3 separate regions of the Homo sapiens genome follow, and regions 2 and 3 are each reported to be linked to region 1. Evidence: microRNA targets listed by miRTarBase, many of them from high-throughput screens and not tested one by one. Region 1 holds a microRNA gene; each other region holds the end of a gene's coding sequence.

Evidence for each region. The annotated mature microRNA hsa-miR-6071 reads UUCUGCUGCCGGCCAAGGC and lies in region 1 at 1,925-1,943, shown strand. An mRNA with a match to its seed (bases 2 to 7 or 8) in the 3' UTR can be bound and repressed. Matches are read on the target gene's strand: a 7mer-m8 pairs with bases 2 to 8, a 7mer-A1 pairs with bases 2 to 7 and ends in A, and an 8mer does both.
Region 2: the mRNA of VANGL1 is a reported target of hsa-miR-6071. The part of its 3' UTR that is shown has no 7-base or 8-base seed match.
Region 3: miRTarBase lists ARL5B as a target of hsa-miR-6071. The part of its 3' UTR that is shown has no 7-base or 8-base seed match.

What each region holds. Positions count from the first base shown.
Region 1 is chr2:85,782,447-85,785,599 of GRCh38, reverse strand. MIR6071 (microRNA 6071) reads left to right here and starts at 1,923; the gene lies at 1,923-2,000. The region is part of intron 2 of ATOH8 (atonal bHLH transcription factor 8); the gene reads right to left.
Region 2 is chr1:115,690,877-115,693,876 of GRCh38, reverse strand. It overlaps VANGL1 (VANGL planar cell polarity protein 1), which reads right to left. Exons shown (of 8, transcript NM_138959.3): 8 at 1-2,758. The coding sequence ends at 2,498. Among named protein-coding and RNA genes, the nearest start is that of VANGL1, 50 kb to the right of the region's middle.
Region 3 is chr10:18,675,021-18,678,020 of GRCh38, reverse strand. It overlaps ARL5B (ARF like GTPase 5B), which reads right to left. Exons shown (of 6, transcript NM_178815.5): 6 at 1-2,853. The coding sequence ends at 2,805. Among named protein-coding and RNA genes, the nearest start is that of ARL5B, 17 kb to the right of the region's middle.

The DNA.
Region 1 (3,153 bases):
GACGTGGAGGGCCTGCTAACCACAGGCCCTGGTGAGCCCCGTGGGCCGGGGCAGCCAGCCAAGACGCAAGTCTGGGGCAAGGCTGAAGTGGGGTCCAAGGAGGGCGAGGGAGCCGGGCCAGAGGGAGGGAGTGCTCTCCAGCTAATAGTGGCTCAGGAGGGAGAAAAGGAAAAGTGAGAGGCGGGAGCATCTTGATGTGGTAAATCCCAGGCTCACATTCTCCAAGCCCACTGTGCATGGCTGGCCCCAGCAGGAATCTGCTTTGTGTTACCGAGTCTGAGGAGGAGGATTAAGAAGCGGAAAGGAAACCCGTGGGGATGGCACTGGGTCTGTGGTCCACGGGGTGATTTACAGCTCGCGTCATCCCGGCGCTGGCTGCCTGGGCGGGCCCTGCCATGGGCAGAAAAGGTTTTTCTCTTGTTCAGCCTGCCCGTGGCCTGAGGAAGAAGGGGAGGCTGGGTTGGCTGGAGCCGTCCTCCTGGGCATGCTGTAAAGGCGGTCAGGGCAGCCTGGGGCCAGCCCCAAGCCGTCTGTTGGCTCTTAGTCCCCGCTGAAGCCACAGCTACCATCCAGGATTAAAGGAGACAGGGGTTTCTCTCACCAAGGCCTGACCTTCAATTCTCGACCTCACCCTTTTCCTGGCGTCTACACTGGACCACCACCACCTCGGTCCAAGAATCTCAGCACATACATCATCCATCCAAGGAAGTCTTATGACAACTGGGATGTAATGGGAAGAACACTAGGAGGCCTCAGGTGCCAGGACTTTCTCTGCAATTCAGCAGCTGTGTGACCTTGGGTAACTCACTCTCCCGCTCTGTGCCTTCATTCCGTCACTTGTACAGTGAGGGGAGGGGAGGCAGATTAGCATTGCCCAAAAGGTGTTCTGTGAACACCAGCTAGGTGAGGCATTCCATGAGTTTGGGAAATACCACATACCTTGGTCCCACTTGGAAAGTCACTGTATGTATTAGCATGTCAAAGGCTCCGAAAAGTCCTGCAGTAAACAAATTTGTGTGGCTTTAATGACCCAGTTTCCCAACTGACTTTTTTTTTTTGAAACAGGGTCTCACTCTGTTATTTAGGCTGAGTGTAGTGGTTGCAATCATGGCTCAGCATAGCCTTGACCTTCTAGGCTCAAGCGATCCTCCAGCCTCAGCCTCCCAAGGAGCTGGGACTACAGGCATGCACCACCATGCCTGGCTAATTTTTTATTTTATTTTTTATAGAGACAAGGCCTCACTATGTTGCCCAGGCTGGTCTTGAAATCCCAGATGCAAGCAATCCCCTCGCCTCAGCCTCCCAAACTTACAGGTGTGAGCCACTGCAGCCAGCCTTCCCAACTGATTTGACCGTGTAATTGCTACTGCATTGTGAGGAGCAGAAACTCACTTCAACCCTCCAGGAAAGGGAAGCTCACTTAAAGTTACAAAAGGGCATTTCACAGAGACCAGGGGGAAGGTCTCAGGATAGGTAGCAAAGGGCTTGCAAAGGTCAGCAGGGGCAGTCTGTGGCCCTGCCCTCTAGACGCCTGCTAATAACAGCCACTTGCAGGTATCCGCCTTCCTCCCTGACTACTGACTGGCCTGGTCTCCCAGCATGCCAATCCCCAAGACCCAGTGGAGGACGCCCATTGGTCTAGCCTAGGTCTGATTTATTCCCCTGGACCAATCAGCTCTGGCCGAGGGATAGAAGACAAAGATGCCAATGATACCTCTTCATAAGTGGCTGTGTGTGGGGGGCGGGGGGTGCATGTGGGGGTGCATAATTGCAAATATGGAGAATAGCAAGCATCCGCGCTGTGACCACCACACCACAGAACCCCTTTCATGGAAAGCCTGGCAACATCCTGTGTCCCATGTGAGGGGCACAGTGCGAGAGGCTTACATTCCCCGCAGCACTGGCCCTTTGTGGGTTTTTGTGTTTCTGCTGCCGGCCAAGGCTCTGGGTCCGGCTTACTCCCTAGCTTACTGTCCTCAGAACCCCCGCCACCACAGAAGATGCCCTTTATTTTATTTATTTATTTTTTTTGAGACGGAGTTTCACTCTTGTTGCCCAGGCTGGAGCGCAATGGCACGATCTCGGCTCACTGCAACCTCCGCCTCCCAGGTTCAAGTGATTCTCCTGCCTCAGCCTCCCGAGTAGCTGGGATTACAGGCGTGCGCCACCACACCCGGCTAATTTTTTGTATTTTTAGTAGAGACGGGGTTTCACCATGGCCAGGCTGGTCTTGAACTTCCAACCTCAGATGATCCACCCTCCTTGGCCTCCCAGAGTGCTGGGATTATAGGCCTGAGCCACCGTGCCCATCCGAAGATGTCCTTTAAACAACAGGTTCTGCTGCTAAGATTAACCTTGAGAATGACTAGATGAGGAGGCCTCACAGGTCCCTCTCAGCTGCTCTGACGTGCTGAATCAGAGCAAGGTGATTTGGTCAGTGTGGCAAAGTGGGAGCATTTATCACAAGCAGAAATCATCTTTTTATCTGTTCACTTGTTTATAGTCAGAATGCCAGCTCCACGAGGGCAGGGACGTGGCCTGTTTTGTTTGCTGTTGTAGCTCCAATGCCCAAAACAGTATCTAACACACAGCAGTATCTCAGTAAATGCTGGGCCAGGCGTCACGCCTGTAATCCCAGCACTTTGGGAGGCCAAAGCAGGAGGATCTGTTGAGGTCAGGAGTTCGAGACCAGTCTGGCCAACATGGCAAAACCCCATCTCTACTAAAAATACAAAAATTAGCTGGGTGTGGTGGCGCATGCTTGTAATCCCAGCTACTTGAGAGGCTGAGGTGGGAGGATCTCTTGAACCCAGGAGGCAAAGGTTGCAGTGAGCTGAGATTATGCCACTGCACTCCAACCTGGGTGTCAGAGGGAGACTCTGGAGACTCTGTCTCAAAACAACAACAACAACAACAACAAATAAATACTGGTTGACTCAATCATAGCTACTTTTGGTCACAGGCATTTTACTCACTGTGGCTTTATATATTGCAAGATGTTTCTCCTACTTCAAATGTAACATTGAGCATTTTTGTAAATGGGTCTATCTATACTTTCAGGGAAGTTGTGGTAATTGTTATGAACCCTGGAACAATTTAGCAACCTTTATGCTTTTGTTCGTTTCCAGTTTAAAAAAAAAAAATTCTAATTGT
Region 2 (3,000 bases), not on the chromosome of region 1:
GCCTTAGGGCGAAGTTTACCCCCTTTTAAAAAGAATAGCCTACCAGTTCCAAGAATTGAAATAAAAATGCATTGTGTTCAATTGTGGGATGCAGCTTTCTGAAACCTTAAATCTTTTAAATGTCATTTACATTGTTCCCACTGCAAAAGTAACTCAAGCTATAAAGAGGTTGAAAGTGCAAAGGCTTTACAAAGATCCTGCATTTTATTTTGTTATTCTTTCAAAAAGAACTCAATACAAAGTCAATATAAAAAAATCAATACTCAATTTAAAACAGAAACAGTAATTTCTGAATGTCTAACATTCTCCTATGCAAAGACTGGGAGAAAGAGGAAGGGGGAGAGAGAAAATAAATTCTTTAATTTAAACCTTTCTTCACCCTGCTGGGAATGCACATGCCAGAGCAAATGAATCCAGCTTAACCCCTTCTGGACTGGTCATTGAAGATAGGGTTGGAAGAACAGTATTTTAGAATGGTGATGAACAGTGTCATTATTAACTATATGTACATACACTTATGGCACTTGGAACTGCACTGTATCCATGACGTAGCAACCTCTGACACAGCCCGTCTCACACTTGCCATCTCTTACCCCATTTCCCAAAATATTTCCTGAGAAAGATATTGTAAGGAACTTCCAGTTTGAAGGGATCTAACGGCAAAAACTAAGAACAAAAGCACCATGGTTCCATGGTATGTGTTTTTTATAAACAGAAACACATAGTTGAATAGTACATCTTGGCTCCACGCCACACCTATGGGTTCCCCCTTCCTTCTTCTCCAGCATGTCTTTTCAAGCTGAAGGCTAGTAATTGAAGAATGTTGTTTACTTTTTCAGGTACAGGTGTATTACAAAGATCCAAAGCCAATTTTGATTTTTACAATGACACAAAATACTGTACCACTTGTGGAGTGTATGAAGCAGTAAGGGAGTAAGGGGGTGTGCACACATACAAAGAGCATTCGACAATGTCATCCTGTACTACAGCAAGATGGCTGATTACCGAAATACTGGAAAAAGCAAGAGTGAACACTTTTAAAAGGTTTGTTGCAGATACAGGAAGGCAAATGGAGGCAAAGGCAGCCCAGTGCAAGAGGTCCGGATGGGGCTCCTGAAGGAGCTCCCCTGCAGCAGGGCTCCGCCAGGATGGCTCCTCTGCCCACAACCCAGTCAGTGTCTGCTCCCCCAGGGCCAGGGGAAAGCCCACTGAAATCAGCTGTGTTTAACAGACAGACCACAGATGAATCTTTCTGGACAAGATGGGCTCCCTACTCTCCCTTCCCCAAACTCTGTAGAGTGTCCATTTTCCTTCTCCCCACTTTATCAGCAACTAAGAGTGGGAGCAAAACCAGCCTCTTTCCTGGTCCTAAGTGGCAGAGGCGATGAGTTGCACAGTGACGGTGGTCAGAAAACACAGGGACTGGACAGCAGCAGTTGCCAGCGTGGTTGGCATGGTTTGGTCTCCTTTGGCAGGGCAGCTTGCTCTAAGCTTGGGAAGAACTTACGTCCCCAGGAAATTAAGTGGCTCCAAGTTGCACCTGCCAATCCCAGAGTCACAGTGTTAGTCTCCCCTGGTTGGTGTAGAACAGTGGGGAGGAAAACTGGGCAGTGTGGGGCTCCTGCTGCAGCCTAAAGGTGGCATTCCCACTGCCCTCTCTCCCTGTGCTTTACCTGCTGGGCACCCCACACTTCCCTATGGAAACAATGCTGGGACTGACTTGAGGCTTCACACAGAGCCGGAGGGCACACATGGAGAGCCAGGGCTGCCAGCCAGGTGGGGGCAGGATGGCATGGAGGCCAGGTGGGCAGCTGCAGGGCTGGGAAAGGGTTACCTGCTTCAAGCCAGCAGAGGGGTGGGATCAGAAACAGGGCAGGTAGGTTTTCTCTTTGGGAAAAAAACAAAATCAAATCACTTAATAGCTGTAAACGACAGTGTACATTTTTTGTTGTGATCTTTCTCTGAAGAACCTAAGGCAACAAAGAACAAAGATGAAGGCAGGTATCTCCTGAACTGCCCACGACTTTCATGGGTGATGTGATACTGGACATTAACATACACAAATACATATGTGGACGTGTCGTGACTGGTTTCCTGAAACAGAATAAAGATGTGTCCCCTGGAAGTCTACAAGTGGGCTGACCAGAAGCAACGGGGGACTTGGTACTGGACGAAAGGCAGGAATTAGTTGTAAGGCGAGGCTCCCAAGAAGCACCAGCTCCACTTTGGTTTACAGCTGTAACAGAAGCTCCAAGGAATGGCTTCTTGAGAAGTCCCATCGACAAAAGTCAGATGTCATCAGTCACTCTTTTTCAGGGTGGACAGCCCCTGCTTCCTTCCAAATAAAGTGCAGATGGTCAAAGGATACTGGTCAATCATCTGCCAGTTTCAGTCAGCAATGAAGAAGAATTTTTAAAAAAGACACCCCTCTGGCATAGATATATATCTCTCTATATATTTTTCTTTTTTTTTTAATAAAGCCACAAATATAGAACTTTTAAACGGATGTCTCAGACTGTAAGCGAAGGACAAATTTGTGAGATTTGGGGTCTATGAACTCTTCAGAGAGTATGATGAATGGAATTTTCTTCACATTGACTACGAGGCTGAAGTCCAAGCACTTAAGGACGAACACAATTCCATCCCGTAATCCATTAGTCACAGCCTCATCACTGACAAGCCTCCACTGTGTAGAGAGCCAGCGGTCCTTGTCATATTGCAGGGTGGGGCCCGCACTGAGGTACCGTTCTAGGAAGGCCTGGAAGCAGAGGAGAAAGGCCATTAGGGAAGAAACAGCCTGTTTTAAGGGCAGTACTGCCAGGCGGCTATCCACTCTCACATCTATAAAGAACTTTTTCCAAATAAACCAGCTTAGACCAGAGCCCAGCTCATCACACTCAATTCCCATCAGACCCTCACAACTGAGTCATTACTGGGGAGGGAAGACTTCTTGGACTTCCTCACTCCCCTTTACCTACTATCCACCAAGCGCAAGAATAG
Region 3 (3,000 bases), not on the chromosome of region 1:
TCAAAATTAAGAAAAATGCTGTATTTGAACTTGCAAGGATAATTGAACACTTTGGTTATAACATACTTAAAAGATTTCTGTTAAAATTTAATTTCCTTGTTTTCAAATTAAAAGGTAGAACAGTCTCCTGAAGGTAATGTAGGTGGGTCCCTTGCTTTTCACTTACTATAAACTGTGCTAACCAATACATGGAGGTGAAGGGGGATATAAAACACAAATTATTTCATCACTGAAATAATTAGCTGCTAACATGACTTCTAAAGAACAGGTATAATATAAAACTAAGAACTTATTTCAAAATATGAATAAAGGCACTAATTACAAATGTACATTTTTTAGACAGTATCTTACAGTTCACTGATTTACAATGAATGTCAGAACCAATGCTCTAGTATTAGATACTTGCTTGGGTTAAAACATTCTCTTGGAGTAAAGAATAATCAGTTTTCACGTTACTGTGACAGGAAAGATTGAGTGAAAACCTAAAAAATACTCTTAAAAAGTCTTACATGAATTTCCTAATCATGAACTTTTCCCAATCAGCACCGTCTACACTGATGCCAATTTCATCTTCAACACATGGCTAACATAAATCATTTCTAATCCAAAACTAACCAAATATTTTTTAAAGGATTTACAAAATAAATTGTATTTTAAAAATTAAATAGCAAATTTGAGTCTATACTAGTAGTTGGCAAAATACAATCAACTATTAAAAACACTTTTAATATAATGCTGATGTGGTAATATAAAAAATAACCATATAATTTGACAGAAGAAAATTGAGCCAGCCAATCTTACTAGATACAAGAAGGCAGATAGTCATTTCATAAGAACAAATACAGGAGTACTAAGTATGCTTTTTCTCAGGACAGACTTAGGGAAACTACCCTCAGTACTTACGGTAAACAACACAACCAAGCAGAAATTCAGGCAAACTGTGCTTAGGTAAATGGCATTTTCTTAATTCCCCCACATCCCACACACACCACAAACCATCCATATCGATTTATGTCTGCTTTTCGCTCATGTTCTTGATTATGGGTTATATTAAAAACTAAGTTAAACTACACTTATCCTCTACTTGATACAGAATCACTAAGAAAACGGCTTAAAACAAAGTTAAACAACTACTTTCCAAAGCCCAGAAAGCTTTCCTTTGGCCACTGTTCAGTTCAAGGGTGTGCTCCAACTAAAGATAAATCAGAAAAATGTTACCACATTCGACTAAATTAACTTGACTAAATATAATAAACCAAGCACACCTGAAAAAAGAGCAAAATTTAAATCAACTTACAAAAATATTAAAATTAAAATACCAATTTTGAACACATATTTTGATATTATGAACTTTGTATCTTTTTTATCAAAATTAAAAAGTACTGCAAAAATGAAGTATTATTCTCTAAGTATTCATTTTATCCCTTTCATTTCAGCAAAATCACACATTTGAATAAACAGGATCGAAATACGACACTTGTCTTTCCTCTTAATTTAAGGAATATATTGTTTAGATTATTGTTCATATTAGACAACTGCCTCAAAAATGTTTTAATGCCATCCAATAAATAAACTTTTGATAGATTATGACTTTTTTTAATTTTAAGTTGTTAAGAATATTAACTTTGAGTCTCCTATTAATATTCTAAAAGCTAGGATTCAATTCAGCAGTTTCCTATAACATTTTAGAACCCAAGGCATAACTACAAAGATGGCAATTGTTTCAAGTCTATTACATAATACCGTCAAATAAATTCAAGGAAAGCCATGTAGTTTTTTAAGTAACATACTGCTGGTAGTAAAAATGCTATGACAGACACGACTTCAAATTTTAAGAAACAAAATGGACTGTTCATACTTCGGCTTCAGCTACTGCCCAAAGCAGCTGTGATATATCTTGCAAAGAAAAGAGCTAAAATTTCTGTTGATAATAAAGTTGTTTGTAAACTGATGCTAAAATATATTCCAATTGTCTTATTTTTAGTGCTGGTATGATTTACTAACTTCTGATAGTTTTATATGCATTGAATAATGTGATATTCTTAAAATAACAGATTTATTCAAGAATATTTAACATCAAAGTTGGGCTTTCAAATAAATATTTTACCTTGGTTAGTTTTTGAACAAATGTTGCAGGCAGAAGAGTGGACTTGATTCCTTTAGATAAATAAACAGCCTACTTAATTTCCATGCAAATAACAACTTAAACATTATTCCATGACTCAACAGTAATGTGGGGGAAAGTTAAAAGGCAAGTACTCATGATGTGGAATCTTCCTTACATATATCCTCTAGGCAGATTTCTTTCTTTACAGTAAGTTCTGTCCGAAAGATGAATGGTTTATAGAGGGAACAAATATATTTAGTGCTGGAGAAGTCTGCAGGCAGTACCTGATGGTTTCCAAGACTACTCTATCAAACCAGTAATTCTCTGGTTGGGAGGGAGTGCTGGTCAAGAATTGAAAGCAATTGGTCATTAAGGTTATAAGAATATTTCAGAAGACATCACGCATATGACAAACATTTCTTACAAGGCAGTCACTGATTAATTAGAATAAACAGAAGAATTGTTGCTGAAAACATAGTTATACATTACATTCATCCAACTGAAGATTAGTGTGTTAAAAAAAAAAAGTTAAGAAAAAATCTTTTATGTTCCAGTTCAGCTGCACTTGATTCAAGTGTTGCTCTCAGAGGTTTGTGTTGTTATAAATTAAACATGCTGCTGCCTTAGCAGCCAAAGGTACTAGGAAAAAATGTTCATGTCACAGAATAAATAGAGCAGTCTCTTTCAAGCAAAAAAGTTATCTCACACCAATCCGGGAGGTCATCCACTCTAGACCTTGGCATAACCTAAACAAAAGATAGAAGTATTTTTAATTAAAAACCTTATACTTAAAAACTGAAAGCGTACTTATTATTTTTAGGTCTTAACCAAAGGCTGGTAGCACAATCATTATTTATATACATCAGTGTCAACATTCAAGTCACACTATAATA